4 linked regions of the Homo sapiens genome follow. The protein of the gene in region 1 interacts with the protein of each later gene in a pairwise test. Each region holds a gene or a part of one and is shown in the gene's direction. Other genes may lie near its edges.

Evidence for each region.
Region 2: the proteins of COIL (region 1) and PDLIM5 interact in binary tests that used the Homo sapiens proteins (3 or more experiments, as listed by UniProt).
Region 3: the proteins of COIL (region 1) and DRG1 interact in binary tests that used the Homo sapiens proteins (3 or more experiments, as listed by UniProt).
Region 4: the proteins of COIL (region 1) and CCDC57 interact in binary tests that used the Homo sapiens proteins (3 or more experiments, as listed by UniProt).

What each region holds. Positions count from the first base shown.
Region 1 is NC_000017.11:56,937,699-56,944,409, reverse strand, and holds the end of COIL (coilin), read left to right. Parts: intron 1-2,286; coding exon 2,287-2,375; intron 2,376-5,255; coding exon 5,256-5,339; 3' UTR 5,340-6,211; downstream 6,212-6,711. UniProt on the Homo sapiens protein: Component of nuclear coiled bodies, also known as Cajal bodies or CBs, which are involved in the modification and assembly of nucleoplasmic snRNPs.
Region 2 is NC_000004.12:94,447,351-94,455,759, forward strand, and holds the start of PDLIM5 (PDZ and LIM domain protein 5), read left to right. Parts: upstream 1-4,591; 5' UTR 4,592-4,645; intron 4,646-7,896; 5' UTR 7,897-7,938; coding exon 7,939-8,034; intron 8,035-8,409. UniProt on the Homo sapiens protein: May play an important role in the heart development by scaffolding PKC to the Z-disk region. May play a role in the regulation of cardiomyocyte expansion. Isoforms lacking the LIM domains may negatively modulate the scaffolding activity of isoform 1.
Region 3 is NC_000022.11:31,422,795-31,431,372, forward strand, and holds part of DRG1 (developmentally-regulated GTP-binding protein 1), read left to right. Parts: intron 1-485; coding exon 486-616; intron 617-3,820; coding exon 3,821-3,988; intron 3,989-4,265; coding exon 4,266-4,388; intron 4,389-8,578. UniProt on the Homo sapiens protein: Catalyzes the conversion of GTP to GDP through hydrolysis of the gamma-phosphate bond in GTP. Appears to have an intrinsic GTPase activity that is stimulated by ZC3H15/DFRP1 binding likely by increasing the affinity for the potassium ions.
Region 4 is NC_000017.11:82,166,915-82,175,492, reverse strand, and holds part of CCDC57 (coiled-coil domain-containing protein 57), read left to right. Parts: intron 1-2,632; coding exon 2,633-2,855; intron 2,856-3,639; coding exon 3,640-3,792; intron 3,793-8,578. UniProt on the Homo sapiens protein: Pleiotropic regulator of centriole duplication, mitosis, and ciliogenesis. Critical interface between centrosome and microtubule-mediated cellular processes. Centriole duplication protein required for recruitment of CEP63, CEP152, and PLK4 to the centrosome.

The sequences.
Region 1 (6,711 bases):
TGTGTTAGCCAGGACGGTCTCGATCTCCTGACCTCGTGATCCTCCCACCTCAGCCTCCCAAAGTGCTGGGATTACAGGCATGAGCCACCGTGCCTGGCCAGGTTTCCAACCTTTCTTCTGATGAGATTTCATTTATAGAAATCCCCTTTCTTAGGAACGGTGGACAGAAAAGTTTGTCCACTGTCAAATTCTGTGCATACAGCCTGATCAGTGCTTGTCAGGTGATTAATAGTGATGACATCCACTTAGAACTTTTCTTCTTTAGGGCATCAAGAAATGGCTTCGGGGGCGAAGGTGGGAGGATCACTTGAGCCCAGGAGTTCAAGACCAGCCTGGGCAGCATAGTGAGACTCTGTCGTAAAAAAAAAAAACAAAACATAGCTGAGTGTGGTGGTACATGCTTGTAGTCCTCGCTACTTGAGAGGCTGAGGTGGGAGGATCACTTGAGCCCAGGAGGTCGAGGCTGCAGTGAGTCATGATTGCGTCACTGCACTCCAGGCTGAGTGAGCAAGACCCTGTCTCAAAAGCAAAAAAGAAAGAAAGAAATGGATTTATCTGTTCTCTAATAGCAATGTCACTTGTCCTTGATGTGGTGGTTCTGATATACATATATTTCAGTTACCCTGGTTTAGTTAAGTAATACTAGTCCCCCAGCAACATTGCATATGTTAACTGTAAGTGCATGAAGTACTGCTAGCTCTTTAGTCCACATATCACTATATAACATAAATAACAGATACGCGTCATGATCCATTACCAGTCAAGTCAGTACTTTCAGAGTCCGTCAGTGACTGGTCACTGTGCATCTGTTATTCAGTTCACATACAGAGCAGAGCATGCAGTTGTGGTGCCTCCTTGTCTCTCACTTATAAACCTGCATGACATTTTACAACACGTATAATCGAAGTAGGGAATTGGCCCACAAAGATAAAGGCACAGCAAAGAAACAAAAGTGGTAATGCTGAAAGTGCCATCCAAACTGAGTTTAAGGAGAGTCTGTAGAAGAAATAGCTCACTGTAGGAATGTTGACACTGCCAGTGAGGTGAACTTATTGACATAAATGAGGAAAGTGGTTGTGGCAAAAAGGATGAAAATGTCCCCAAAGTGACACCAGCAAAAACAAAGATTTTACAAAGTAAAAAACAAATTCTTTGAGCTATTTCACGACATTAGAAGTTCAAAGGATAAAATGTAGAAAGCAGTTTCAAACTTAGAAAAGAGTATAACAGTTGCACAAAGCATAGAGAAGATGCTTGCTCTGTATTGTAAGTTACAGGGCAAGAACACAAGCACTGTTCAAACTCCCCCTGATAAGTTTCTTACAAAGAAATAAAACGTGTAGAAGGAAAGAGAAAAAGAAAGTTAGTTCTTAGTGTTCCTAATGTAATTACAGTGTACTCATAAGTACAATATATTTATTTTACTATTTTTTAATTTCCCTATGTAGTAAAGGTTTTTAATGTTTTGGCAAAATTTTTTAAAACTCGTAAGACGATAATAATTTTTCCTATTGATTATTAAGATTGTTTTGCGTGGTTTCAGCTTGCACAGTCATTTTTCCAATCCCATTTTACCATAGAAAGCAAGGACTGAGGCCGGGTGTGGTGGCTCACGCCTGTAATCCCAGCGCTTTGGGAGGCCGAGGCGGGCAGATCACTTGAGGCCAGAAGTTTGAGACCAACCTGGCCAACATGGTGAAACCCTGTCTCAACTAAAAATACAAAAATTAGCTGGGCATAGTGGTGCATGCCTGTAATCCCAGCTACTCAGGAGGCTGAGGCACAAGAATCACTTGAACCCAGGAGGTAGAGGTTGTAGTGAGTCGAGATTGCGCCACTACACTACAGCCTGGGCGATAAAGCAGGACTCTGTCTTAAAAAAAAAAGGGGGACTGCCTGTGTTACCAAGTAGTAGGAAGCATATGTGATTTCTAAGGACAGAGCAGCATTTCATATTACCTTCCCTTGTTGAAACACATAAATTAATTAATTTTGGGGATTATCTTGTGGTGCCATATTCAATTCTGGTAGTACTAATGACAGTTCATCAAGCTTATGAAGGAAAGATTTTCTCTGATAAATGGCTGAGAAGTCCCCCTGGTCCAGAGTTTTTCTCAGGATCCCCCAGTATTGAGCACCCTGTGCTTTCCTGTACATACCCAGCCTTCACATTAATTGACAGTTTGTTTGTGGTTGTTTTCTTAATGATATAAATTCCCCATAGAGGAACATTTTTAACTATTGAAAAATGACTTACTCTCTTTCCTCCCTATCTTCTTGTTTCAGCCTTGAGAGAACCTGGGAAATTTGATTTAGTTTATCACAATGAAAATGGAGCCGAGGTAGTGGAGTACGCTGTGACACAGGAGAGCAAGGTAGGTGTGCTTCTCTTCTTGCGTTGCTTGGCCATTCGTTCTCTCTTGACCAATTACCTGTGGTTTGGAAGGTGACATTGCACTACAGGCCCTGGGGGGAATCTGACCTTCTTATGGTGTGGCAATACCAGTGCCAAATCAGGGCGCCATCTTGGCCCTCATAGAGCCTATGTGACAAGATGCACAAATAACAAACTTTTCTTTAAGAGTGTACAGTTGTTTAAAATTATAGCTATATAAGGATTCCAGTAGGAAAGGGTAGCATATTTAGAAACTTTATTGGCATACACGTTCAGAGAAGTGCATATAACTACATGGCTTGAACAACTTTCACATGAACATACCCATGTAACCAGACCCAGATCAGGAAATAGAACATAACACCCACTCCCAGAAGCCTCTATTATGTCCCCTTGCTGTCACCACTATCCCCCAAGTGTTACCACAGTTCCAACTTTTGTTTTTTTGAGAGAGTCTCACTGTGTTGCCCAGGCTGAAATGCAGTGGCATGATCTTGGCTCACTGCAACCTCCACCTCTCAGGTTCGAGCGATTCTCATGCCTCAGCCTCTGGAGTAGCTAGAATTACAGGCGCTTGCCACCTCACCCAGCTAATTTTTATATTTTTGGTAGAGACGGGGTTTTACCATGTTGGCCAGGCTGGTCTTGAACTGCTGACCTCAAGTGATCTGCCCACTTAGGCCTCCCAAAGTGTTGGATTACAGGCCACCGTGCCTGGGTGAGCCACCATGCCTGGCCCGAGAGTTCCAACTTATAATAGCACAACAGTTTGAAGAGTGACATAAAATGATGATCTCATCCTCTGACTTTCTTTAAATCCTTAAATTGCCATTTTGGGAAGTATATGGTTTATACCTTTTTTTTTTTTTTTTTTTTTTGAGACAGAGTCTAGCTCTGTCACCCAGGCTGGAGTGCAGTGGCGTGATCTCCGCTCACTGCAAGCTCCGCCTCCCGGGTTCACACCATTCTCTTGCCTCAGCCTCCCGAGTAGCTGGGATTACAGGCGCCTGCCACCACGCCTGGCTAATTTTTTGTATTTTTTTAACTAGAGACAGGGTTTCCCCGCGTTGGCCACGATGGTCTCAATCTCCTGACCTCGTGATCTGCACGCCTCGGCCTCCCAAAGTGCTAGGATTACACGTGTGAGCCACCGCGCCCGGCCGATTTATACCTTTTTAAGCAGCCAGACCTACCAGAGTTGCTGGCAGTGGCTAGCTCATTAGGTTATGGTGGCATTAAATGGAAGTTAGATTTAAGAAAATGCTCTCTTTTAAGGTGTTTATACTTGAAATGTTATAGATATTATTCTGTAAGTTTCAATATTGCAAACATATTTTTTCTGAAGTGTGAACTTGTAGAAACCCTAGCCAGACTGTGTTTTACCTTGTCTTTAAGGTAGATGACACTTTTAGGGATTTATTCCAGAAACACATTTTTAGTGTTTGTGGTAGGATCAGCAGATTTGGCCTGGTCTCCTGTATTTCTTTATTTGCAATAGTTTTTTTTGGTTGAAATTGGAAACCGCATTGGAAAATTAAACCTTGGAGGCTTTTCTCTCTATGCCCTAAACAGAGACTTGAAGTAGAATAGAAAGCCTGTAATTAGGCTGGGCACCGTGGCTCATGCCTGTAATCACAGCACTTTGGGAGGCTGAGGCGGGCCGATCCCTTGAGTCCAGGAGTTCAAGACCAGCCTGGGCAACATGGCGAGACCCCGTCTCTACAAAAAAATACAAAAATTAACCGGGAGTGGTGACACATGCCTGTAGTCCCAGCCACCTTTGGGGGTGGTGGGGGCGAGGCAGGAGGATCGCTTGAGCCCAGGAGGTGGAAGGTGCAGTGAGTCCTGAATGCCACTGCATTCCAGCCTGGACTATAGACGTGATACCCTATCTCAAAAACAAAAAGCCTGTAATTACCTTTTTTGACACTAGATGGCCCTCATTATTCATTCATAGGACCAAGCCTTAGAGTTTTTCTCTTGGTGGGCTGTGAAATAGTTCCTGTTTTTAGGTAGTGTAGGATAAGAACTACAGAGCGGCGCAAAAGGGCATCAGCAGCCTAATGATACCCATCTGGACCATGTCTAGTTGCCAGAAGGTCTCCAGGCCACCTGTCCACAGGGCAAATCAAATGCAGGGGTTGGGGGAGCTACTCCCTCCCGCAACCCCTGCATCTCCTGCTCTTAATCAAAGAAAGATGAAATATGTTTAATGTAAAATTTAGCTTCATTCTAAGTAAATGAGTTATTTATTTATTTATTTATTTATTTTCCCAGCACAGAGTTTCACTCTGTCACCCAGGCTGGAGTGCAGTGGCGCGATCTCCGCTCACTGCAACCTCCACCTACTGGGTTCAAGCGATTCTCCTGACTCAGCCTTCCGAGTAGCTGGGACTACAGGCATGCGTCACCATGCCCGGCTAATTTTTGTATTTTTGCAGAGACACAGGTTGGCCAGGCTGGTCTTGAACTCCTGACTTTAGATGATCCGACTGCCTTGGCCTCCCAGAGTGCTAGGATTATAGGCGTGAGCTACCATGCCTGGCCTCTTTTTTTTTGTTTTGTTTTTTAATTAAAAAAAATAATAGAGATGGGGTCTCACTAGGTTTCCCAGGCTGATCTTGAACTCCTGGGCTCAAGCATTTCTCCCCCTCGGCCTTCCAAATTGCTGGGATTACAGGTGTGAGCCACAGCGCCTGGCCTAAAGAGTTACTATACTGCAATTGAACTCAGTTTATTGGAACCCAAATTATTCCCGTTCTTCAATCATTCTACACAGACGGAAAATTTACGTGGCTGAATTAACCGGTATGACCTCAAAATGAAGTGCCTAAACTGGGTATTTTGTCTTTTTCCTCAGATCACTGTATTTTGGAAAGAGTTGATTGACCCAAGACTGATTATTGAATCTCCAAGTAACACATCAAGTACAGAACCTGCCTGAGTATGACCTCTCCACCTTATAGTTTATGAATGTCTTGTTTGTGAAAGTGACTATAACCCAAACTTTTTTTTTTTTTTAAAGAGGATTTGGAAGTTGTATGGATTTTTTTGTTATCTTCACTTTACTGCATAGGAAACAATCTACCTCATCATTTAAAATGACATGGGTGTCGGTTTTGTAGATCTTTGGTTTTTTTGTCAGGTTTAATTTCAGTTAACAAAATGTAAAACATGACATTCCCTGCAGATATTGTTGTATACCAGTATGGTTTCTTCTCTTTCTTTAAATGTTTTTGGCCATCAAGTAGCAGTCGTCAGTAGGAGTTTATAATACCAAGAATGTGCTGCGTATCTTGTCTCAATAAGTTTTAAGTAACATTTAAAAATATTAAAGCATGTTATTTGACCTAATTTTTTAGCATTTGAGTTGTTCCATTAAATGGAGCATCTTGTAAATTTCAAGTATTTTATACTTGCAATTGTTAAGAGTTAACAGGTAGTTGGATTTGTCGCAGACAATGAGTTAAGGAATCCTTTCACGTTTTTCCCAACTTTAAAATTAAGGATTCTCAGGTCCCTGTGTAGAGCAGTGAAAATAAGATGTGCGTATGTGTGTGTATGCCTGGAGAATTGGTGTTTCACTTCAGTGAGAGGATTGGCTGTGAGCTTCAGACCAGGAAATGTGTCATCTTGCCAGGCACCTGGCTGAGTGTGCTGGAGTGAGGATCTTGAACAGAAACTTCCTTTTCTGTTATTATTCACTACGAAGCTAAAATGGCCAAATATATACCGTGAAAATTGGTTTCATTTAACAAAAGATCAGATCCCTCCTTCAGCTGTACACATTTTTAAATAAAATCATATTGAACTAAACATCTCTACCGAGTTATCATGTTGAGTATTGCAAATTATTGTCTTATTTTACAATAACGTGAGAGATTACAATTTTCTGTAATAAGAAGGTTTGCTTTGACTGATGAGTCTGATGTTGCAAAGTTTGGTTCAGTGGAGTTCATCTGATCTGGGAGCCACTGTGCCAGTGGAGATGCTGGCCAGTTTTACTTTGCATGACATGAATGTGTTTCAAAATGTGCATTTATTGATTTGTAATGAGAAGTATTACTCCCGAAAGGATGAGAGTAATGTGAACGGTGGGATCTTGGCACTGGGGTTCTGTGTAGCACAGTTGCCTTCCAGGGTTTGGAAAACAAATTAAGATAACTAGTGAACATTGACCAAAGGAAAATTTTGACCTCAGGGTGTGTTTTTCTCAGATTATTATCAGTTTATGAGTCACTCCTTTCCTCTGTTGTGTTTGTCAGACTATGAATAGAGTCCCCAAGAAGGATTATGAAGTCAATTTAGGGGGACCA
Region 2 (8,409 bases), on another chromosome or scaffold:
CATAGTTCCTTGCTCCTCTCCATTCAGTCAATATCAGTTATGAATACCACCCACCAAACTGAGACTTGAATCCCTGAGGCTAGTTTAAACTTTGCCTTCTTCCTCAATTACACATTTTCTCAGTTACCCTAGGCTTCACGGATCTGCTCTTACAGTCTTTCTTTTCCATTATTCCTTTCCACTCTCTCCATGCCTGATTTAGTTCTGCCCTTCTCCCAGGATTCTTTAGTAAACTTTAGAATGACACTGTGCCTTCTATCTTTTCTCCCTAAATTACCAAATGTTTCTTTAGTTATTAGAATAGTTAATGCTTCTTTTCCATTCTAGATTTTAAAATTTAAATGCTCATGAGTGGTTTATTTACCTTCCAGGATTAGGACTTAAAAGATAAATTGACTCAGTAATATAGGAACTTTTAAAAGACTGGCACTTCATAGTTTATTGGGTGCAACTGTAAAAACTTGTCACAGCCATGTCATGTTGTAATTAAGTTTCTGTTATTTTTGAAGTGCTACAAGAGGTTCTGAGTCATAGATTGGATAATAAAATGTTAGAGAAAACATTTATATGCTTAGGTAAATACTGTGTTTAGAGGGACTATTCTTAAAAACTCTTCCTGCTAAGTAAGTTAATCTTTTGATCTCTTTCTCCCCCACCCCCCAACCCAGCTTTTCTTTCCCTGATTATGATAAAATGAAGCTTTTAATATGTTTTCCTTTGTGGTCAGTGCCTCATTACTTAGCCCTATAGAGTTAATGAGGCCAAGGACATTGGTTTGATTTCCCAATGGACCAGTAACTTCTGATCGTCTGTAGTCACAGGCTGTCCTTCAGACCATGGCCAACCATTTCATAAATGTTAGTGATGAGGGAAACAGACAAGGGGAGTCAGAATGGCCCCGTGGCAATTCATTATAAAACAAGTTAAGGCATATGTCCTCCTGAAGTGGCTCAGGAGTTTCATCTTCCCTCATATACAAATTACTCAGCAGTTATTTTATTTCCATAATTTGCTATGGCTTACACCTCTATGGCCCTCAGCAGTGTTAGTTTCGAAAGCATTCCATCTTCCTCAGGTCTTTGGTCTGGATGGCTTACTGAATTTACCAAGAGACAGTGTGTTGCGATGAAAGTAACATGGTTTTTGGAATCAGACCTTTTGCTCTACTACCATCACTGATTAGCTGTGGGCGTGTGCCCTAGGTTAAATGTCTTAATCTCCAAGTTTCTATTTCTTCCTCTGAAAAAAGTCTACTTTATATGGTTGTAAGAATTAAGTAGAATAATGTACATAGGGCACCAAGAACATAGTACTTGGATAATGAAAGTCAAAGTTCTCTACTTGTTTTTTATGATACACAAATAAATCTAATCAATTGGTTAGGAAAGTTTTCATATGGCTACCATTTATTTAATCCTTACTTGGTGCGAAGCATGCTGTGTAATGTTTTATATATATTATCTCTATTCCTCATGATAATCTCACAAGGTTATTTACAATGATCATTTCCTTTAAGATGAGGAAACAGATAAGTTGCTACCATCTGGAATGCATGGTTCTTAACTGAGCACAGTGCACATTAAACCGGAGACATAGCACTATCTCTAGGGAAGTAGTTTTTAAGCACTGCAGTTTAATAATTACCTGGAGGTGGGGAGGGAGTGTTTGTTAAAAAGATTCCAAGGGCTCACCTACAAGGATTCTGAGTCCAGAGGGGATCCAGGAAAATGCAATTTTAACAAGCTATCCGTGTCATTTTGATGCAATCGGTCCTTTTTAGGACACTTGGATAAATATCAGTCTATGCAAGACAACTTAATTTGGTTAATTTACTCTGTAGCCCAGGATTTAAACTGCAGTAGTAGGAGGAGGTTCAGAGACAGGCTAGCAATTATGGGGTAAAGTGGAATTTGCATAAGTAAGCAACAGTCTGCCCATTCTCAACTCTTCCTCATCACCTCAAGAAGCTTATCCTCTAGTGATAACTCCATAGGCTATCTGCAGTTGATGTCTTTAAATTAATCTTTGTTGATCCAGGATCAATTTAACTGTATCAACAGCAAACAGATGAGAAGGGGCAGAGTTGGGACTCCTAGAGGTTAACTCGAGCCATGGCCCTGTGGAACTGGCAGAAGCTGTAATTGCTTGCGACCTATTATCTATAAATGAGGATGACATTCATTTTATAAAGTTCTTGTAAGGACTACCACACTGCATAGCACATGGTAGGTATTTGCTAATGGTAGCTATTGTTATTTTTTTTTTATTTTTGGGTGAGATGTCAAACATGATAACATATATTAGACTCTCTAAACCAGCTTTCACACTAGGAAACACTTTCCCCCAAAGCCATCTTTTGAAAAATGTGGTGAAAGCTATGGACTGGTGCTGTCCAATGAAAATATAATGTGAAGCACATATGTAATTTTATTTATTTATTTTTTTAGAAACAGGGTCTTCCTTTGTCACCCAGGCTGGAGTGCAAAGACAAGATCATAGTTCACTGCAGCCTCGAACTTCTGGGCTCAGCAATACAAATAGCTGGGACCTGGGACTACAGGCACACTACACGACGCCCAGCTAATTTTTTGGATTTTTTTAGAGATGGGTCTTGCTATGTTGCCTAGGTTAACCTCAAACTCCTGCCCTCAAGCCATCTTCTCACCTCAGCCTCCCAAGTGCTAGGATTATAGGTGTCAGCCACTGCACCCTGCTCACGTAAGTAATTTTAAATTATCTAGTGGCCACATTTTTTTTAAAAAGTGAAATTAATTTTAATCAAATATTATTATTATTACTCTTTTTTTTTTGGTGCGGAGTCTTGCTCTGTCGCCCAGGCTGGAGGGCAGTGGCATGGTCTCGGCTCACTGCAACCTCTACCTCCCGGGTTCAAGTGATTCTCCTGCCTCAGCCTCCCAAGTAGCTGGGATAACAGGCATGCGCCACCACACCCGGCTAATTTTTGTATTTTTAGTAGAGACGGGGTTTCGCCATGTTGGCCAGGCTGATCTTGAACTACTGACCTCAGGTGACCCACCCGCTTCAGCCTCCCAAAGTGCTGGGATTATAGGCGTGAGCCGTCGCGCCCGGCCATAATCATGTATCATTTAACAAAACATAAAATATGATGATTTCAGCATATAATCAATATAAAAATTATTGAGGCATTTTACATTATTTTTTCATACCAAGTCGTCGAAATCCAGTGTGCATTTTACACTTCCAACGCATTTCAATTTGGGCATTATATTTTCAACTTTAGTCCTTAAATGTAGTGCTTAAAAGAAATGTTAACGACCTGGCGCGGTGGCTCATGCCCGTAATCCCAGCACTTTGCGGGGCCGAGGCGGGTTGGTCACCTGAGGTCAGGAGTTCGAGATCAGGCTGGCCAACATGGTGAAACCCCATCTCTACTAAAAATACAAAAAATTAGCCGGGCGTGGTGGCGCACGCCTGTAATCCCAGCTACTCAGGAGGCTGAGGCAGGGGAATCGCTTGAACCCGGGAGGTGGAGGTTGCAGTGAGCCGAGATTGCACCACTGATCCCAGCCTGGGAGACAGAGCAAGAATCCGTCTCAAAGAAAAAAAAAGTAAAGAAATGTTATCCTGCTTCAGTTTTAAATGTTAAATTATTTAAAATTACGTAAAACAAAAAATTCATGGTCTCAGTTACAGTAGCCACATTTCAACTGTTCGATAGCCACATGTGGCCAGTGGCTACCGTTAGGGAAAGAGCAGCTTTGGATCTTCGCCTTTGGAATTTTGCTTGCACTTCTGGGGGCCGGGGAGCTCACGGACCTCATGAAGTTCATCCTTGCTTTATATGCTCCTTGGTTAAGAATTGTCCTTTTCACGTTTTATAAGCCAATTCACAGTGTAACAGTCTAGTTACTTTCCGTATGTTCAGTGAACATTATTCACGTTTTCTTATGAATAAATTCCTCGGGCGTATCAAGCAACCCTATAGAAGGCTGGAAAGTGGACTATTGATTTGGATTTAGAAAAATAAACTGAAGATACAGTGGTTGAATCACTTTTGGCCGCTTTTATGTATCACTGTCTTCTGGTGTGATGGACAGGGTTAACTTCTGTTAGGGTTACTGGTTTTCACCTTCCTGACAGGTAAACTTCTGGGTCTGCACTTTTCAGAGCATGTAAAGCTCTTTCAAAAAAAAAAACGCAGGCAGTAACCGCTGAACTTGCATAGATAGAGATTTATCCAAAGTACCCTTCTATTTTTAGGCAGAGCAACTGCTTGCCAATTTAAATTTCTGGAGAGAAAAATGCACCCACTACAAAACGGACGAGCGGAGGGTTAGACCTTTGCCAGGTAGCGCTCAAAATCCGCTAAGACTACTCCCACCGAAACTCGGTAGCGCAGTTGTCTTTCCGCAGCTGCTTCAGCCAGCCCCAGCAAGCCCGAGCGCCCGGCGCCGCCGCCACCTTCCCCGCCCCTGCGCGGCGCGGCTGGGACTGGCCCAGAGGCGTGGCCGGGAGCGGAGGGGCGTGTCCTGGGTCGGGGGTGGGGCGAGGGAGAGCCAGGAGGCGGAAGTTCCCGCGGGCGGTGGGGACGGCGCCCTCACCGCGAGTCACTTGTCAGCCCTTGTCTGAGGCGGAGGCAGCCCCGCGCCGCGCCGGACCCGAGGTGAGTGGCGGCCGGCCGGCGATGCGCCTCTCGGATCTCCGGTGGGAGAAGGGAAAGAACCGGCCGCTGTGCGCCGAACGCGAGAAGGGAAGCCCGGTTGGGGACGAGGAGGGGGCGCTCCTCGGGCAGGGATGGCTCCTCAGGTGCTTTCTGGGCGCGGAGCGGCGGAGGTGGGAGAGCAGCTTGGGAAAAGGAGCGCCCGGAAAAGGGCAGCGCTGGAGTCCGCATGAGGCCAGAGGGCGAGCCCTGGGGTCCCCGCAGCCCGGGCCGACCGGGACCAGCGTAGCGGAGACGGGGACGCGGGAGGGCGCCCGGAGGTGGCGAGGGCCGGCAGGGACGGGCACTGCCGCTCCCACCCACCCGGCTGCCGGCGTCGCCCGGCACCACCGTGGTGTGGTGTCTGAGTGCCCAGTCCTGCGCCAGTCTCTTGGAGGGTAGGAAGCGGGACTCAAAGGAAAAGGCGCGTTAGTTTTTCTTTGCTCCCAGGCTACTGAGAAGCATTTATTTCTCCCCCAGATATTTACAGTTTTGTGTAACCTGTTTGGGGAAAACTTCTGCGCGTCCAGAAATAAAGCTCGTTTAAGAAACACATTTGTCATGAACACGAGATTTGTTAACACTTGAGTACTTGTTGGGGCTTTTGTAAGACTGTGCCTTCGGTGCGTTTTACAATAAGTGGAAAAAGGAAGGGCGTGTGGACAGGGCAGAGCTTGGAAGGAAAATTCGTGGCGGCGCTGGGCAGGGCAGATTTAGGGTGTGATCGCCAGATCCTATCCCAAGTCCGCCTTCCTGACGGGGAGGACGTCTGAACCCGCCTGCCACGGAAACGGCCCGTTCGGTAGCCTTATTTGGCCAACAAGGCTAGGCGCGAATCCCTCCTGGAAAACTGTCCTGTCGGCTGCTTTCATCCTGTGCCTGTGGCTTTAGTTCTTCAGCTCTACCTACATTCTCTCTCCATTGCGGGGAAAGAGAATCTCAAGATATTTCTCTTTAATTTCAGGCCTTTTTTTTTGTCACTCTGTGTAGTTCATCTTGAGTTCTCCTTTCTCCCCTCTCACCCACTAATGAAGCTGAGATACAAGTGTGGGAAATACCAAGCTTCCTTCCCTAGTACTAGAGCAAAGACATTGTTTAGACTTTCCCTAAAAGAAAATCCATAACTCTACAGAAATTCCAACCTTTTCGACGTGTTTGAAAGAGTATGCTGCTATTTCCTGCCTGCTTGGTATTTGAGGAAGGGCTTGGGCACTAATAACCAGATGGAGGAGTCTTGGAAAGGCCAATAAAAATATTGCCATTGCTTGGGGCAGAGACTGTTTTAAGGCAGATGAATTCCAAATGAAGCTAGCAGAAGAAGCATCTAGAAATGAACGGACAGTGACTAGAAATGAAATGACACTGGTTTTGTAGTGTGGCTGTGACCTTGCCAGTGCTAGGAATTTTAATAACAAATGAGAGAAGTTAGGAAGGGAATCCCCAAGTAAAGGGAAGTTGCAAGTACATGGGTTGATAATCTAAATGAAATACATTTTCTTGTAGGGAAGAATGGGGCCAGAGGAAGTTGAGCCCAACTTTCATATTATTCCCCAGACACAAGTTAAAGATTAATAAAGGAGGGCAGGCTGCCTGTGAAATATCAGTTGGCTTTACACGATTCTGATTTGTATCGTGTCAATATCAGGACAGTCCTTCTATTAGTTTTCTGAAAATCTCCTCCTTTTATAGCGGGAAAGCAATTGAATTATGTGTGGCTCGTTATTAGCTTCCCACTAGTAGTTTTTCACCTATATATACAGTTTGACTTCCGGCTTGGCCTTTGGATCTTTTTTAGTGCTCTGTGCCTATTACTTCATTACTGAAGTAATGTGTTATTGCCTTGTAGTTCAGTATACTACCACGCCAGTAGAAAAGCTGTTTCGGTTTCTGATACAATTTTCTGTAATTTTTATTTTCCCTGATATAATTTTTCTTTAAAAACCAGGCTTATTTGAATGTTTTGCCCCATTTTCCCTTTATGAGAAGAAGGAATGTTTGCTTTAAATATACCTATGGCTCAAATATCTATATCTGCAACTATGAATTTGGGGTGATGGGCTAGAAATTTTGAATGGGTTAAAACATATTTTAAGACAGGTAATATTAGGTGGTGATTTGGTTGAATAGCTTACATTTTCCAAGGAAGTATGTTTTTAATATAAAATTACATATCTGTTATGTTTTTAATATTTTTTAAAGAGAGAGAATTATTGTTTCTTAGTATTCCATTAAAACAAAAGAAAACTTCATTCCTCTGTCTCCTGCCGTTATAACAACCAATAGGAAACTCGAAGTTTTTTTTTTTTTTTTTGCTTTTTAAAAATTATATGAAAGTACTACTAGGAGAGTCATCACACGCACACTTAACAGCAGAACAGACAAAAGAAAGCACCGAAGCACTGGTTCTTTTCTAAACTGCCAATTCCATTTGAATGCATTAACCCAGCACTTTTGCTGTATTTAGTCATAATCTTATTCACTGAGTGGCAAATGCTTACTCTCTGCCTGGTGAGGTGTGTGTATAAAACAAAAAGCAGGTTGTGACTAACATCACTGTACTAGAGTATTGCCTATCGTTGACTATCTGAAGGAAAAGTAGATATCACTTTAAGTGTGGAAAATACCATGTCCCCATAGGAGGAAATACAAGTTGTAGTTCATGATTGGAGAGAATAGTTTTGTGCATTGAAAAACAGCTTCTCATTGTAAAGAATTTAGTATTTGGAAAGCATGAATGGGAGCCTACTGATTTGCAGTCTCTTTCACATGTTAGAGTAACTTAGAATTTAAGTAAGTGCAGTTGAAAGACTCTTGTCAATTGCAGACAAAAGAATACATGAAGTGGAGGGAAGGAGAAAATTATTCTGAATTCAACCTGAAATAAAATCTTGCTACATTAGTGAAGTATTGTAAAGTACTTTGAGTTAAACTTTGCATGCAAGAAGCCACAAAATTGGATTGAAGCAAGTTGTGAAACATACTAAGTGTCTAGAAATGTATTCTGATATGGAATTTTTAGACCATGGAAATTGCCATGAGTGTAGAAAATTTATATTAGCTCACAGATTGCTTTTCTTAAACTGAAATTAATGAAGAACTTAATTAAGACTTATCTTCTATATCCTCTCACCCCCCTCAAACAAAATACTAAACATAATTTATGTTCTAGGGTTTCAAGTAAACATTTTTGCTAATCATCTGATTTTCTTTCACAGCATATTTCATTTTCTGTCATTGGACTTTGAGCCATTAGAACCATGAGCAACTACAGTGTGTCACTGGTTGGCCCAGCTCCTTGGGGTTTCCGGCTGCAGGGCGGTAAGGATTTCAACATGCCTCTGACAATCTCTAGTGTAAGTAAACTTTACAAATTTTATTATAGATGTTCATTCAGTGCTTAGTCCTCGGGCTGAGTTGTTTAATTCTCTGTTGACCTGTACTCTACTTATTATCATTGCTCCTGGGATTTGATCTTGGCAAATTTGATTATCTATAATAAAGGATGAGGGGAGTAGATTTAGCAAGGATAACTGACTTCAATTTAACTTCTTTTCGTTTTCCCCCATGTTATCAATAATAAAATGGAAAAAGCATTTAACTAGGAACAGACTGTACATTTTTGAACTGTCCCTAATTTGGGGAATTCTCTGAATCTTCGTTCTTTCATATATAATTTTCAAAGGTTGTGCTATGGGATTTTAATAATCTCTTTCAGTTCCAAAAGCTGT
Region 3 (8,578 bases), on another chromosome or scaffold:
TTTCATAATTCTAGAGGCTAGAAGTCTGAGATGAAGTTGATGGCAGGGTTGATTTCTTCTGAGGCTTCTGTCCTTGGCTTACAGATGGGACTTCATATGGTGTTTGCTCTGTGTGTCTGTGTCCTAATCTCCTTTTCTTATTAGGACCACCAGTATTGGATTATGGCCCCACCCTAATGACCTTATTCTAATTTGATTACCGCTTTAAAGACCCTATCTCCAAATACATCACATTCTGAGATACTGAGGTTAAGACTTCATGTGAATTATTTGGTGGGGGAAGGAGGAACACAGTTCAGCGTGTAACACCTTCCTTGGAGTTTGGACATTTATTTCCTACTAAAAGTCAGTGACACTCATCCCGGATGTATTTAGTAATGAGTTTGCATCTTAGCTAGAATTTTCCAGGTACATGGATATTGGTACACTTGACAAGTATTTTTTTTAAATTTTGTGCTGACTAGTCATCTGCTATTCCCTTTCAGTGCCCCCAGAGTGAGCTGGATGCTGAAACTGTGAAGAGCATTCTGGCTGAATACAAGATTCATAATGCCGATGTGACTCTACGTAGTGATGCTACAGCTGATGACCTCATTGATGTGGTGGAAGGAAACAGGTACTGACTGAGTGTGCAGTCTGTGCCTGACTGAATTGGAAGCCTTGTGATGGAAACAGTATTGGATCTTGAATCTGGCAGAAGTTTATCTTAATTCCAGTTGTCCTACTGTCTTTTTTTTTTTTTTTTTTTTTGAGATGGAGTCTCACTCTGTTGCCCAGGCTAGAGTGCAGTGGCGTGATCTCAGCTCACTGCAAGCTCCACCTCCCAGGTTCAAGAGATTCTTCTGCCTCAGCCTCCCGAGTAGCTAGGATTACAGGTGCGCACCACCACGCCCAGCTAATTTTTGTATTTTTAGTAGAGATGGGGTTTCATCATGTTGGCCAGGCTGGTCTTGAACTCCTGACCTCAAGTGATCCGTCTGCCTCGGCCTCCCAAAATGTTGGGATTACAGGCATGAGCCACTGTGTCCAGCCTGTGCTACTATCTTAAATGATAGTGGGCTTTGGTTTCTTTTTTTTTTTTTTTTTTGAGATAGAGTTTCGCTCTTGTTAGCCAGGCTGGAGTGCAGTGGCGCAGTCTCGGCTCACTGCAACCTCCACTTCCAGGTTCAAGCGATTCTCCTCCCTCAGCCTTCCTGAGTAGCTGGGATTACAGGCCTGTGCCGCCACGCCTGGCTAATTTTGTATTTTTAATAGAGATGGGGTTTCTCCGTGTTGGTCAGGCTGGTTTCGAACTCCTGACCTCAGGTGATCCACCCCACCTCGGTCTCCCAAAGTGCTGGGTTTACAGGTGTGAGCCCGGCCTTTTTTTTTTGAGACAGAGTCTTACTCTGTCACCCAGGCTGGAGTGCAATGGTGTGATCTCAGCTCACTGTAACCTCCTCCGCCTCCCAGGTTCAAGCGATTCTGCTGCCTCAGCCTCCCAAGTAGCTGAGATTACAGGTGTGCACCACCATGCCCAGCTAATTTTGTATTTTTAGTAGAGACGGGGTTTCATCATGTTGGCCAGACTGGTCTCAAACTCCTGACCTCAAGTGATCCGCCTGCCTTGGCCTGCCAGAATGTTAGGATTACAGACATGAGCCACTGCGTCCAGCCTGTGTTACTATCTTAAATGATAGTGGGGCTTTGGTTTCTTTTTTTTTTTTTTTTTTTTTTTTTGTGAGACAAGAGTCTCACTCTGTCACCTGGGCTGGAGTACAGTGGCGCGATCTTGGCTCACTGCAACCTCCACCTCCTGGGTTCAAGTGATTCTTCGGCCTCAGCCCCCTGAGTAGCTGGGATTATAGGCGCCTGCCACTACATCTGGCTAATTTTTTGTATTTTTAGTAGAGATGGGGTTTCATGTTGGCCAGGCTGGTCTTGAACTCCTGACTTCAGGTGATCTACCCACCTCAGCCTCCCAAAGTGCTGGGATTACAGGTATGAGCTGCTGTGCCCGGCACCCGCCCCCCCCCCCTTTTTTTTTTTTTTGGAGTCTTGCTTTGTCCCCCAGGCTGGAGTGCAGTGGCACGATTTCAGCTCACTGCAACCTCTGCCTCCCGGGTTCAAGCAATTCCCCTGCCTCAGCCTCCCAAGTAGCTGGGACTACAGGTGTCCGCCACCATACCCAGCTAATTTTTGTATTTTTAGTAGAGACGGGGTTTCTCCATGTTAGCCAGGCTGGTCTCAAACCTCAGGCAGTCTGCCTGCCTCTGCCTCCCAAAGTGCTGGGATTACAGGCGTCAGTCACCCTGCCTGCTGGCTTTGGTTTCTTTAGGGGTAAACTGAGGGATTAGTTTTTATTTCTGACATCCTTCCTTGCTTTTAAATTTAATTATGATGGTCATATTCCCCATTTCAGTTTTTTTCTTTTACAGCCTCTTCCTATGAAATTCTCCGTTTCAGTTACTTGCTGTAAACTAAGCTGCCCCCTAAACTTTGTCATGTGATAGTTGAAGAAAGTAGTAGGTCAGTCTGCTCTTCCAGAATTAATCCACCTGAGAAGTTATATAGGCTGTGTCCTACAGAAGTCCGAGCAGGCCAGGCTGTGTCTGTTTTCTCCATCCTAAGAGTATGTAGCTGAATATCTGTTTCATGATACATTACTTTTTTTTTTTTTTTTTGAGACAGAGTCATGCTCTTGTCGCCCAGGCTGTAGTGCAGTGGTGTGATCACGGCTTACCGCAGCCTTGAACTCCCGGGCTCAATCCATCCTCCCACCTCAACCTCCTGAGTAGCTGGGACTATGGGCGTGTGCCACCAAGCCAGGCTAATTTTTGTATTTTTTGTAGAGATGTTGTTTCACCACGTTGCCGAGACTGGTCTTGAACTCCTGGGCTCAAGCAATCTGCCTGCCTTGGCCTCCCAACGTGTTGGGATTATAGGCATAAGCCACTATGCCCAGCCCATTAATATTACTGAGACTTTAATAAGTTAAGTCACTGTTAAAATTACTCATAGCATTTGCATGTAATATTTTTAGTTGCTCTCCTAGTCATTTGTTCCTGTATGTTGGATGAGTGTACTTACTCCTCATTTGAAAACAAACAGAAGCCAGTGTTTTCAGTTAGGCATTTTACAAGTGAGGCAGTTAAACCTGAGAAGTTGTGGCTTGCCTAATTAGTAGTAACCTTAGCTGTCATATTGATTGGACACTAGGAATATGACATTGGTAGATGCTATATCAGTTTTACCAATATTATTTATTGTACCAATAAATAAAACACTTATTTTTTAGTCTTTAAGTATAAATTATGTTTTAAAACAGCCTTGTAGGAAACTGACTCAGAGGTTAAGTGACTTTCCTAGGGACACATAACATCACCTCTTCATATCCACAGAGGATTGCTTCCAGGACCCCTTGCAGATAATGAAACCTGCAGATGCTCAAGGCCCTTATATAAAATGGTATAGTACAGCTGACCCTCCGTGTCTGTGGGTTTTTGATCTGCAGTTGGTTGAATTCAGGGATGCAAAACCTGCATATTTGGAGGGCCAGCTGGGATTAGAATCAGTCTGAGCACTTCAAAGCTTGTGTTCTTTCCACTGCAGTATGCTTTCCTAGCAGTTAGCTTTGTGGCTGGTACTAGGGCCTGACTTCTGTTACTTTTCAACCCATAGTTCACTTTTTCTTTTTCTTTTTTCTTTTTCTGGCTGATCTGCTACTTACAGTCCCTCTTGGGAGCGCCAGTTGGGTCTGGGTGAGGGTGTGCTGTTCAACAGTCTGACAGTTCTGTCAACAACTCCAGACTAATACCCTGTTTTTCTTCACTTTCTGTAGAGTTTATATCCCCTGTATCTATGTGTTAAATAAGATTGACCAAATCTCCATTGAGGAATTGGATATCATCTATAAGGTGCCTCACTGTGTACCCATCTCTGCCCATCACCGCTGGAATTTTGATGACCTATTGGAAAAGATCTGGGACTATCTGAAACTAGTGAGAATGTAAGTCTTTGTGGATAGGGTAATGTTGCTATAGGAATTAACCAGACTGTCCTAAAATGATACTTTCTGGAGCTCATTAACAAAATCTGGCTCTTTTTGAAAATATAAGTAAATTGGTTCCTATTATCTACTAGGTCATTAGGTCATATTGAGGACACTTTTTCCCTTAAGTTGGAGGTTGTCCTGGTCTGATGTCAGGGGTGATGGAGGGTTGCTATACATTCAACACATGAGATAGTCTAAGAAGGCAGTAATCTTTATGCCCTCTCTATTCTAGTTACACCAAACCCAAAGGCCAGTTACCAGATTACACATCCCCAGTGGTGCTTCCTTACTCCAGGACCACAGTGGAGGATTTCTGCATGAAGATTCACAAAAATCTTATCAAAGAATTTAAATAGTAAGTATCATGGGCCTGTGGTCCCTCCTTTTTCCTATGAGTTACCAATTTTACTAACTAGTAATTCTTAGGATAGCATTTTAAAAAAGAAGGCAGGAAGGAGGCTACTGAAATGTTTGCTTGGCTAGAACTCTGCAGTGTCTTCTTAAAACCGTGCCTAATTAGAATAGGAAGAGCTCTAGAAACCTCTTTAGGTCAGGAAGCCTGATGACACAAACAACCCTGACCTTCCCTCATTATTTCATCTTCCTCTTGGCAAACACAAATATTAATAATTCCTGCCAATGTCACACTGGCCTCTACTGGGTACTGAGCCCCCTTCTAAACCTTAAACATGGGCAAAACCTCCCTAATCTCTTACATTTTTCACTGCTGACACAGGCTGAAAAAAAATTATTTTATTTTTGCGACGGTCTTGCTGTTGCCTTGGCTGGAGGGAGTGGTGAGATCATAGCTCACTGGAGCCTCAATCTTCTGGGCTCAAGCAGTCCTCATGCCTCAGCCTCCTGAGTAGCTGGGACTACAGGTGCACACCATTATACCCGGCTAATTTTTAATTTTTCATTTTTTGAGACAGTCTCGCTTTTGTTGCCCAGGCTGGAGTGCAATGGCGTGATCTTGGCTCACTGCAACTTATGCTTCCCGGGTTCAAGTGATTCTCCTGCCTCAACCTCCTGAGTAGCTGGGATTACAGGCATGTGCCACCCACCATGCCCAGCTAATTTTGTATTTTTAGTAGAAACGGGGTTCCTCCATGTTGGTTAGGCTGGTCTTGAACTCTTGACCTCAGCCCCCCAAAGTGCTGGGATTACAGGCATGAGCCACCGTGCCTGGCCTTAAAAAATGTTTATTAGAGACGAGGTCTTGCTTTGTTTCCCAGGCTGGTCTTGAATTCCTGAGCTCGAGCAATTCACCTGCTTCAGCCTCCCAAAGTGTTAGGATTATAGGTGTGAGCCACTATGCCCAGCATATTAATTTTTTATTTTGAACTTATTTTAGACCAATAGCAAAGTTGCAAATACAGCACAAAGTTTCTTTTTTTTTTTTGAGACGGAGTCTCGCTGTGTCGCCCAGGCTGGAGTGCAGTGGCGCAATCTTGGCTCACTGCAAGCTCTGCCTCCAGGGTTCATGCCATTCTCCTGCCTCAGCCTCCCGAGTAGCTGGGACTACAGGTGCCCGCCACCACGCCCGGCTAATTTTTTTGTATTTTTCAGTAGAGATGGGGTTTCACCGTGTTAGCCAGGATGGTCTTGATCTCCTGACCTTGTGATCTGCCCGCCTCGGCCTCCCAAAGTGCCGGGATTACAGGCGTGAGCCACTGCGCCCAGCCCAAAGTTTCCTTTTATCTCTCACCCCACTTCTAATGTTAACAGCTCACATTACTATAAAATTATCAAAAACAGGAAATAAGCATTGGTATGATGTTGTTAACTATAGATCTTATTTGAAATTTATTACTTTTTCTTTTACTAGTGTCTGTTTTGTGTTCCAGGAACCTGTGTGGCATTTAGTTGTTGCTTGTTTGTAGTCTTGTGTTCTAGTCTACCAGTAATATTTCCTTAGACTTTCACTGTCATTGATGATCTTGACACTTTTGAAGAGTGTTCACTAGTTATTTGATTGAATATTCCTTAGTTTGAGTTTGTCCAGTGTTCTCTCATGATTGAAATGAGATTATGCATTTTTGGTAAGAATACCACAAAAATAATGATATGTTCTTCTCAATGTATCATTACATGAGATTCATGATGTTGATATACCTCACCGATGATAATATTCACATTGATTACTTGGTTAAGTTGGTGTAGGGTGGGTTTCTCTGCCGTGAAGGTAGTATTTTTCTCTCCGTATTTTATAAGTATCTCGGGGTACTTTTGAGACTGTGAAAGTCCTTTTTCTCTTCAAATTTTTGCCTGCTATTAGCATCTACTGGTGAGGCTTGTTTGTGACATTTATGGCTATGGTGTTTACCTAGCCATAGGCTGGAGTGTAGTGGCACGATATCAGCTCACTGCAACCTCTGGCTCCTGGGTTCAAGCAATTCTTCTGCCTCAGCCTCCTGAGTAGCTGGTACTACAGGCGTGTGCCACCGTGCCCGGCTAATTTTTGTATTTTTAGTAGAAATTTTTGTATTTTTAGTAGTCAGGCTGGTCTCAAACTCCTGACCTCAGGTGATCTGCCTGCCTCGGCCTCCCAAAGTGCTGGGATTACACACAGGCATGAGCTACCACGCCTGGCCTAATGGTGATTCTTTATTTTCCTTTTTTATTTTACATTTATTTATTGGACTTCTGTGTGTTAGAGCTACCACTTCTTTATTTAACTCATAATTCCTATCAGTATGAGCTCTTGGTTATTTTATTCTATAGGATGTAATCTAATACTATTATTATTTTGTTGCTCAAATTACTACAAAGCTTTGGCCATTAGGAACTCTTTCATGTTGGCCCCTGTGTTCTTTTGATAAGCTCCTTTTTTTTTTTTGAGACACGGTCTCACTGTTGTCCAAGCCGGAGTGCAGTGGCACGATCACAGCTCACTGTAGCCTTGATCTCATGGGCTCAAGCCTCAGCCTGCCTCAGCCTCCTGAGTAGTTGGAACTCCAAGTGTGCGCCACCATGCCCAGCTAGTTTTTTCTATTTTTTTTGTAGAGACAAGGTCCGACTTGTGTTGCCCAGACTGGTCTCCAATGCCTGGGCTCTAGTGATCCGCCTACCTTCACCTCCCAAAGTGCTGGGATTACAGGCATGAGCCATTTATTTATTGTAGAGATGGGGTCTTGCAATGTTGCCCAGGCTTCTCAAACTCCTGGGTTCAAGTGATCCTTCCATCTCTGCCTCCCAAAGTGCAGGATTACAGGCATCAGCCACCCTTTCCTTACTTTTTGATAGTGTTAATACTTAGATGTTCCCAAATGACATTGATTTTGCCTGCACTAGCCCTGAAAATTAGTCACTTCTCCAAGGAGCCCCAGTTTTCAAGATGTGGGTGCTAAGCATGCTCATTGTTAGCAAGTAGGTTATCATTGCCTGTAGGCCCTCTCAGCAAATAAAGTTAGGAAATACATGTATGGATACTAATGATGCTTATATACACAACTGTATTTCTGTATCTGTCTTATCCTTCCTCACTATCCATCATTTATCCATCTTTCCTAAAAACCATGAGTTTATACTGTTATCTCTGATTCTAGTTCAATACTACAGGGTTAATTTTTTTTTTTTTTTCTTTTTTTGAGATGGAGTCTCGCTCTGTCGCCCAGGCTAGAGTGCAGTGGCGCCATCTCCGCTCACTGCAAGCTCTGCTTCCCGGGTTCACGCCATTCTCCTGCCTCAGCCTCCTGAGTAGCTGGGACTACAGGCACCCGCCACCACACTCGTCTAATTTTTTATATTTTTAGTAGAGATGGGGTCTCACCGTGTTAGCCAGGATGGTCTTGATCTCCTGACCTCGTGATCCGCCCGCCTCGGCCTCTCAAAGTGCTGGGATTACAGGCGTGAGCCATCATGCCCGGCCACTACAGGGTTCATTTTAGCCTTCCCACTTAGTATTATTTTTGAGACAGGTTCTCTGTCTCCCAGGCTGGAGTGCGGTGGCTCTGTCACAGCTCACTGCAGTCTCGACTTCCCAGGCTCAAGCGATCCTCCTACCTCAGTTTCTGAATAGCTGAGACCATAAGTGTATGCCACCATGCCCAGCAAATTTTTTTTTTATTTGTAGAGACAGGGTCTCCCTATGTTGCCCTGGCTGGTCTCGAACTCCTGGGTTCAAGCGATTCTCCTGCTTTGGCTTCCCAAAGTGCTGGGATTACAGACACTAGCCACTGCACCCGGCCTTCCCCCCCCCCCCCCGCTTTTTTTTTTTTTTTTTTGAGACGGAGTCTTGCTCTGTTGCCCAGGCTGAGTGCAGTGGTGCGATCTCGGCTCACTGCAAGCTCCGCCTCCCGGGTTCATGCCATTCTCCTGCCTCAGCCTCCCGAGTAGCTGGAACTACAGGTGCCTGCCACCATGCCTGGCTAATTTTTTGTATTTTTAGTAGAGACGGGGTTTCACCATGTTAGCCAGGATGGTCTCGATCTCCTGACCTCGTGATCTGTCCACCTCGGCCCCCCAAAGTGTTGGGATTACAGGCGTGAGCCACTGTGCCCGCCGCACTTTTTTTTCTGAATAGGAAAAAGGGTTAAAAACAAA
Region 4 (8,578 bases), about 25 Mb from region 1:
ATTCATCTCAGTGAGCAAAGGGTGACTTTGAATAGAATGGGAGGCAGGTTTGCCCTGAGCAGTTCCCAGCTTGACTTCTCCCTTTAGCTTAGTGATATTTTCCTTTCACACTGCCGAGCCCTCTGAGCCTTGCTTGCCGCTGTGGTGGGCCTGCTCAGCCAGTGAGGCCAGGCAGCCAGCACCCTCAGCGCGTCCTGGGACATAGCCTGGTAAGCCTCTGGGCACTCGGTATCCCGCTCTGTAACTGGCCAGGTGGAGCACGGCCTTCCAGGGTCTACCCCTCATGCGACTGTTTCTCCAGGAGAATTCTTTCTTCCTTTTGGTTCTACCATAAATATTTTCCCACGCCATTACAATTCTTCACGAACAGAATCTAAATGGCTGCATGTTTTATCAAGCGGCCACACCATAACGCACCTAGCGATTTTCTTACCAATGGTCCTTCATGTTGTTCGCCATTGTGATCACGGCACTGCGGTGGGCAGTTTCCTGTTGTTGTACCCAGGCGAGTTAGAGAAGACGCCACACTCTGAAACGAATTGAGTCCTTTATTTAAGCCGGCAGCCAAAGAGACGGCTAACGCTCAAAATTCTCTCGGCCCTGAGGAAGGGGCTTGATTAACTTGTATACCTTGGTTTAGGAAGGGGAGGGGAACTCAAAGGCAATAATTCTACAGAAGTAAAAACATGCAAGAATCAAAAGAAGCAAATGGTTACAGAGCGATAAACAATTTAAAAGACAAATGGTTACAAAAAGCAACGGTACCAGGTGCAGGGCTCTAAATCCTTCATTATAGTTAGACATAGATGCTATGCCGGACACGAACTCAAGGCTTTATGTTGTTATCTCTTTGAGAAGAATCCTGGGAACTTCAGACGTTGTTGGTGCCAGTACCTTATCAGTTAATTGGGCTCCTTTGAAATGCTGAGGATCTGCTTACACAGGTCAACTCCTTGCGGAAGGGGGTTGGGTAAGGAGCCCTTAGTGTCTTGTAAATTAAGGGGTCAGTTGGAGTTTGTCCGGCTTTCCCAGCTAGAGAGAGTCTTATTTACATGAGAAACAAGGCTAGGTGATTAAAGAGACAAACAGGGCAAAATTTAAAGTAGCGAGTTAGAGTAAAAACAGGGTTAGGCATCGCACTGTCTCCGTTTCTAAACTGCCAGTTGAGGTGCAGGTTCTGTTCGCATCCTCTCCACCCCTGAGCGCAGCGTGTGAAGCTCTCCTCCTGGGAGCCCAGGCCAGCTGGCCTTGCCAGGGAGCACGGAGGAGCCAGCGGGCAGTCAGAGCGTCCTGGGAAGGGCCCAGATCTTGCTTCAGGTTTGTGTTCATGGAGTGCAGAGTAGGGAGCAGGCTCTGCGTCCCTCAGGGTGGCTCCACAGGAGAGGAAGCTGTGCCTTTTGCACACATCTTGGCTGGACTCAAGGTTGAGTTGGGCCAGACCCTGGGACTTTGTTTCCCTCTCCCGTATCTGGGGTCTATGCTGGCGTCTGGAAGCAGGTGTTTCCTCTAATGTGTCTGGTGTTCTAGTTGTTCACAGCCGCAGGGAAAGACTCATGGCAGTGAGTCCCTCCTGGTCAGAGGCAGAAGCGCCCCTCACCTTTGGTTAGAGAAGGACACTCCCTCTCCCTAGGAACTGGGTGGGCGGGGCCTGTCTCTCCTCCTGCACCGGAGCCACCTCACCTCGTTGTCCTCCCGCCTTGGTGGCTCCTTGCGGGGTCTGTCATCCCTATGCCTGCCCTTTGACCCTAGGGTAACATGTCTCTTTTCTCGGGTTGCTTTTAGAGTTTCCATTTTGTTGCTGATTTTTCAGCAGCTTGATTATGTGCTGTTTGGTATGATTTTCTTTCTGTTTATCCTGCTTAGGGTTCACTGAGCTTCGTCATCTGTGATGTCGGCTTTCAGCTCATTTGCTTCGTCATCTGTGATGTGTGGCTTTCAGCACATTTGTAACATGTCTGGCCTTGTTGTAGACGCGTCTCCTGTCTTTGCGTTCATCTGGGCTCCTGGTTCCTTGTGCACCTTGTTCATGGTCTCCAGAGCTCTGCTCATTTTTTCTTCTTTGGCACCTTTCCTTCTGAGCTTCAGTTTGGGTATTTTCTGTTGCCAGGTGTTTATATTCACTGCCTTTTCTTCTGCGCGCTCTGAACCTGCTCTTCATCCTATTTAGTGGATGTTTGATTGTACTAAAGTATACATAACGCAAAACTGGCTGCTTTAACTATTTTTTGGTGCACACAGTTCAGCAGCATGAAGCGCATTCACACGGAGGTGCAGCCATCACACCACCCTCTCCAGAACATTCTCATCTTTCCATACTGAAGCTCTGTCCCCAAGAAACACTGGCTCCCCCTCCCCGCCCACAGCCCCAGCACCCCCATTCCACTTTCTGCCTCTGTGGATTGGACACTCTAGGGATCTCAAAAGTATGAAAGGCTCCAGGAATTTGAGTGTCATATTTGCACTTCTGTCAGAAAGGAGGGGCATCACAGCCTGGGGATGGGGAGGGACCACAGCCCAAGCTGAAGCGGGGGACCGGCCCGAGAGGGGCGCGGGGAGAGCGGAGGCACAGCCTGTCAGGACAAGCTGGGGAACCATTCATCTTTTTGTAGCCATTTTTCCTTGTATTTGACAGATGCTTCTCAGGCAGCATGAAGAAGAAATAAGTAAAGACTTTCCATCCAGTGAGATCCAGCGGCTCCGAGAGCAGAACACGAGCTTGCGAAACGCGATTGCCCAGATGAGGAAAGAAATGGAGGCTCTAAGCCATCAGATTCCTCCTCCCATCCAGACAGCGGCAGAGAGCACAGATGCAAACCAGCCTGACCCAGAGGCTGGGGGAGATGCCGCCACTCCTGGTGAGTAAGTGGGAGAAACGGACAGAGCGGGAGAGGAAGGGGGAGAGGGAGGGAGGAGGACAGACGGGAGCATGGGTCTTGACTGGCTTCAAGGAGGCTTCATTTCAGAGTCCTATAAGTTAACATCCCCTGTAATAAACTCAAAGTATGAAAACTGCTTTTTCTCCAAGAGAAGGGATCTTAAGTTTTATACCAAAAAGCTTTTATATTTGTAAAGTGGAAGGAAAAAATGAGGGTACCTGCTTGACACACTTAAAAACCTGTTTTAGACCTGGACCAGGGCTGGCTTGCTGTCGCGCTGTCCCAGAATGGGTTGGTAGCAGGGGCTGGTGGACCTCAGTCCTTTCCTCCAGAGGAGCGTCTGTGGCAGAGCTGATGAGGGCCTCCCGACCCCCAGGGACCCCATGAGTGGCTGTGGGTGGGCAGATGCCGGGATGGAGGCAGAGCTTCCGTTCTCGAGATGGGACTTGGCCCCTCTGCACAGAGGCACGTGGGCTGGCGGCAGGTGGAGCATTTGCTCCTGATCACTGAGCCCTTCCTGGAGAGCATGGAGACTGTGCTGGTCTCTGGCTGGCACACTCTGGCCAGTGAGGGGAGGGAAGGTCTTTCAGTCTGACACACACAGAGAGTGTGGAAACTACGGTGAAGCTGTAGTGTGAGGAGGACAGGGACAGTGAAGCTGGCGGGCATGAGCTGGCATCGGCTCCCTGAGCTGGTGCTCACAGGAGGGAGGTGCGAAAGGATGCTGTGTATGTGTTATATTCACTGGAGGTTTTTTTGGCAGATTATGTTCTGGCCCTTGAAGCAGAAATACGAACTCTAAAGCATAAGTTTAAAACTCTGGAAAAGCATCTAGAAGATGTGTTGGATCCTTTAAAGATGTCCTCACCTCATGCTGAGTCTCAGCCCAGCGTCCGCACCTCGACAGAGACGACTGGTAAGTCCGCGTCTCAGTGGGGTACTTGCTGTCCCCTTATAAACTGAAATCTGACCCCTGCAAAAGTCCGCTCATAGCAAATATACAGCTCAAGGCTACTGCAGACGTTGGGGCGGCGTCATCCAGCCCAGCAGCCCCTTGTGCTCCCTCCAGAGCCCACGTGCCCTGGCTCCTCACTGCAGTCAGCGTTCCCTGTTTTGGTGTGAATGGAATTCCTTGTGCTCCCTCCGGAGCCCACGTGCCCTGGCTCCTCACTGCAGTCAGCGTTCCCTGTTTTGGTGTGAATGGAATTCCTTGTGCTCCCTCCAGAGCCCACGTGCCCTGGCTCCTCACTGCAGTCAGCCCTCCCTGTTTTGGTGTGAATGGAATTCCTGGAGCTACCTCCAGAGCCCACGTGCCCTGGCTCCTCACTGCAGTCAGCGCTCCCTGTTTTGGTGTGAATGGAATTCCTCGCGCTCCCTCCGGAGCCCACGTGCCCTGGCTCCTCACTGCAGTCAGCGCTCCCTGTTTTGGTGTGAATGGAATTCCTTGTGCTCCCTCCGGAGCCCACGTGCCCTGGCTCCTCACTGCAGTCAGCGCTCCCTGTTTTGGTGTGAATGGAATTCCTTGTGCTCCCTCCGGAGCCCACGTGCCCTGGCTGCTCACTGCAGTCAGCGCTCCCTGTTTTGGTGTGAATGGAATTCTGTGGCACCTGTGCTTCTGTCTGGCGTCTTCAGACCTACACTGTGTTTCACTTGATAATGCCAGATTCTTCTCCAAAGCATCCATCCACATCGTGCGAGGTAGCCGTGGTGCTGCATGCGCGCCAACACTTACGTGGTCAGCGGCTCCTTCTGTTCCCTCTAGTGGACACGTAGCACATCCTATTTTGGTTTAATTTGCAAATTCATGAGATTCGTGGGATTGAACATCTCTTCCTGTGTGCATTGGCGTATGATTGGCTAGGGCTGCCGTAACTCAACACCACAGCCTGAGTGGCTTAAACAACGGTTTTATTTTCTCACTTCTGGAGTCTGGATGTCAGAGATCAGGTTGCCGGCAGGGTGGGTTCCTCCTGAGGCCTCTCTGTGGCTTGCAGACGGCACCCTCTCCCCTGCGTGCTCATGTGGACTCTCCCCCTGCGTGCTCACGTGACTCCTCCCCCGCTGCATGCTCACTCCTGGTGTCTCTTCCTCTTTTTTTTTTTTTTTTTTGGGACAGAGTCTTGCTCTGTTGCCCAGGGTGGAGTGCAGTGGCATGATTTTGGCTCATTGCAGCCTCTGCCTCCCAAGTTCAAGCGATTCTCCTGCCTCAGCCTCCTGAGTAGCTGGGATTACAGGTGCATGCCACCACGCCCGGCTAATTTTTGTATTTTTAGTAGAGATGAGGTTTCACCACGTTGGTCAGGCTGGTCCCGAACTCCTGACCTCGTGATCTGCCTACCTGAGCCTCCCAAAGTGCTGGGATGACAGGCGTGAGACACCGCGCCCGACTCTTCCTCTTCTTGTAAGGACAACAGTCCAGGGCCCCAGCCTTAGGACCTCATGTAACCTTAGCTGCCTCCTCAGAGGCGCTGTCTCCAAATACAGTCATGTTCGGGGTGAGAGCTTCAACCCGTAAATTTTGGGGGGCAGAGCTCAGTCCATAGAATTGGCCTTTCGACAGCCCCTCTTTTGGAGCTCCAGGCCATGTCTTTTGCCCATTGTTTATTGGATCATCTGCCCTTTGTCATAGATTTTTTTAGGGTATTTTATGCTGAATATGAGCCTAGCGTTGGTTATATGTGTTGCAAATATCTTCTCCCAGTCTATGGCTTGCCTTTTATTCCTTCACTGGTGTCTTTGGTGAATGGAAGGTCTTAATTTCAAGACAAACTCATAGGCTAATCTATTCCATTGTGGTTAGTCCAACATCAAAAGGTTCATTCTAGCATTCTAGCTTTCTTTTTCATTATTCTAACTTCCTTTCCCAATAATGAGAAACCTGGCTCGCCCATTATCACTAACACAGTTACTTTGATCGAGTCCTCTTGGTGTAACCAATCCCCCATTGCTGCTGTGGCCCCTTCCCCTATTTGCAGGCCCCTCTCCTGCCTGGATGCCTCCCCAGCATCACCGAGCTTGACAGCCCAGCCTGGCTGCCTTCCACACAGATGCCTTCACCCTGCTGGAGCCACAGCCCCCCTTAGTGTAGGGGAGGCAGGCCCCATCTGCAGGCCTAAGGCAGGAAAAGAAAGGGAGGGGCCAGACAGGACACTCCACTGGCACAGATTGTCTCAAATAGGGGAGGTTTTTGCCGGGCGCAGTGGCTCACGCCTGTAATCCCAGCACTTTGGGAGGCCGAGGTGGGTGGATCACCTGAGGTCGGGAGTTTGAGACCAGCCTGGCCAACATGGTGAAACCCCGTCTCTACTAAAAATACAAAAAAATTAGCTGGGCGTGGTGGCAGGCACCTGTAATCCCAGCCACTTGGGAGGCTGAGGCAGGAGAATCACTTGAACCCAGGAGGCGGAGGTTGCAGTGAGCCGAGATTGCACCACTACACTCCAGCCTAGGTAACAGAGCGAGACTCCATCTCAAAAAAAATAAAGTAAAATAAAATAAGGGAGGTTTTATTTTTCTTTTCCAATGCTGATATTGTTTACTTCTTCTTGCATTATCGCCCCTAGCTAAACTCTCCGGTATGATGTTGATAATAGCTGTCTTTCTCCCTAATCCCAGAGGAAGAACTTTCAGCATTTCACTTTTTTAGGTTGAGTTTTTGCTGAAGGTTTTTTGTGGTGGGGGTAGTGGAGGGAGGTTAAGGAAGTTTCTTTCTATTCCTGTTTTAATATAGATCTTTATTTTTTAAATCACGATTCTTTGTTTTTGTTTCATATATTTTGTATCTTTGTTGTTAGATGTGTATACATTTAGGGTTTTTTTTTTTTAGGATAATTGACCCTTATATTGTTACGTAATCTTCCTCTTTGTCTGGCAACATTCTTTGTTCTGAAGTCTACCTTGTCTGATATTAATTAATCCACTCGGGCTTTCTTTTGATTAGCATTCGCGTGGTATAACTTTTTCATCCCTTTTTCTTTTTACCTACCTCTCTCTTTTATATTTGAAATGAATTTCTTGTTTTTTGAGACGGAGTCTCTGTTGCCCAGGCTGGAGTGCAGTGGCACAATCTCGGCTCACTGCAACCTCTGCCTCCTGGGTTCGAGCGATTCTCATGCCTCAGCCTCCAAAGTAGCTAGGGTTACAGGCATGTGCCACCATGCCCAGCTGGTGGCGTTTGTATTGTTAGTAGAGACAGGGTTTCACCATGTTGGCCAGGCTGGTCTCGAACTTCTGGCCTCAGGTGATCCACTTGCGCTGGCCTCCCAAAGTGCTGGAATTACAGGCGTGAGCCACTGCGCCCGGCCTAAAGACAAAAACTGTTGAAAGCACACAGAGAGAGCGATGCACAGCCCACAGGGGACAGTGACTGGAGCGGTAGTGGGTTCTCAGCAGCAGCTGTCATCAGATTTCTCCTCAGAAGGAAGTGGCATAATATTTTTCAAGTACTGAAAGCAAAAAACTGTCAACCCATAATTATACATTCAGTAAAAATATTCTTCAGGAATGAGAGTGAATAAAGACATTCTCAGATGAAGGAAAAGTTTGTCACCAGCAGACTGGATCTAAAAGAACTGATAAAGGAGGTACTTTAGACACAACAGAAGGAAGGAAACTAGGAATGTCAGGAGTGAAGGAAAACTAATGGCAAGGATGAATATGATAGACATTCTTTCACACTTAACTCTTAAAATTACGTTGACAGGCCGGGCGCCGTGGCTCATGCCTGTCATCCCAGCACTTTGGGAGGCCAAGGCAGGTGGATCACCTGAGGTCAGTAGTTGAAGGCCAGCCTGGCCAACATGGCGAAACCCCGTATCTACTAAAAATACAAAAATTAGCTGGGCACGGTGGCGCACACCTGTAATCCCAGCACTTTGGGAGGCCGAGGTGGGTGGATCACTTGAGGTCAGGAGTTCAAGACTAGCCTGACCAACATGGTGAAACCCCTATTAAAAATGCAAAAATTGGCCGGGTGTGGTTGCGGGTGCCTGCAATCCCAGCACTTTGGGAAGCTGAGGCGGGTGGATCACTTGAGGCCAGGAGTTCAAGACCAGCCTGGCCAAAGTGGAGAAACCCCATTTCTACTAAAAATACAAAAATTAGCTGGGCATGGTGGTGGACACCTGTGATCCCAGCTATTTGGGAGGCTGAGGCAGGAGAATCGCTTGAACCCGGGAGGTGGAGGTTGCAGTGAGCCGACATCGCGCCACTGCACTCCAGCCTGGGCTACAAGAGCAAAAATCCATCTCAAAAAAAAAAAAAAGAATTTTTGTCTTTAGTTTTCAGAAATTTCATTATGTTGTATCTGGGCATAGATTTCTTTGGTTTATTCTTTTTGATATTGATCTGAAGGTTTATGTCTTTCACCAAATTTCAGAAGTTTTCATTCATTATTTTTCAAGTAATTTTTTCGGCTCCACACTCTTTCCTTCTGGGGCTCTGAGGACACAAACGTTTGGTCTTTTGTTATTGTCCTGCTGGTCCCTGAGGCTGTGTTTTGTTTCTTTTCAATTTGTTTTCTCTCTTGTTCAAATTGGACAGTTTCTTTTCCTCTGTTCTTCAGGTTTATCAGTGCTTGCTTTTGTCATTTCCATTTTGCTGTGGAGCCCATTCAGTGAGATTTTTGTTTCTGTTTCTAAAATTTCCATTTTGGGTTTCTTTTTCCTTTTTTTTTGTTGTTGTTGTTGTGGTTGTTGTTTTTG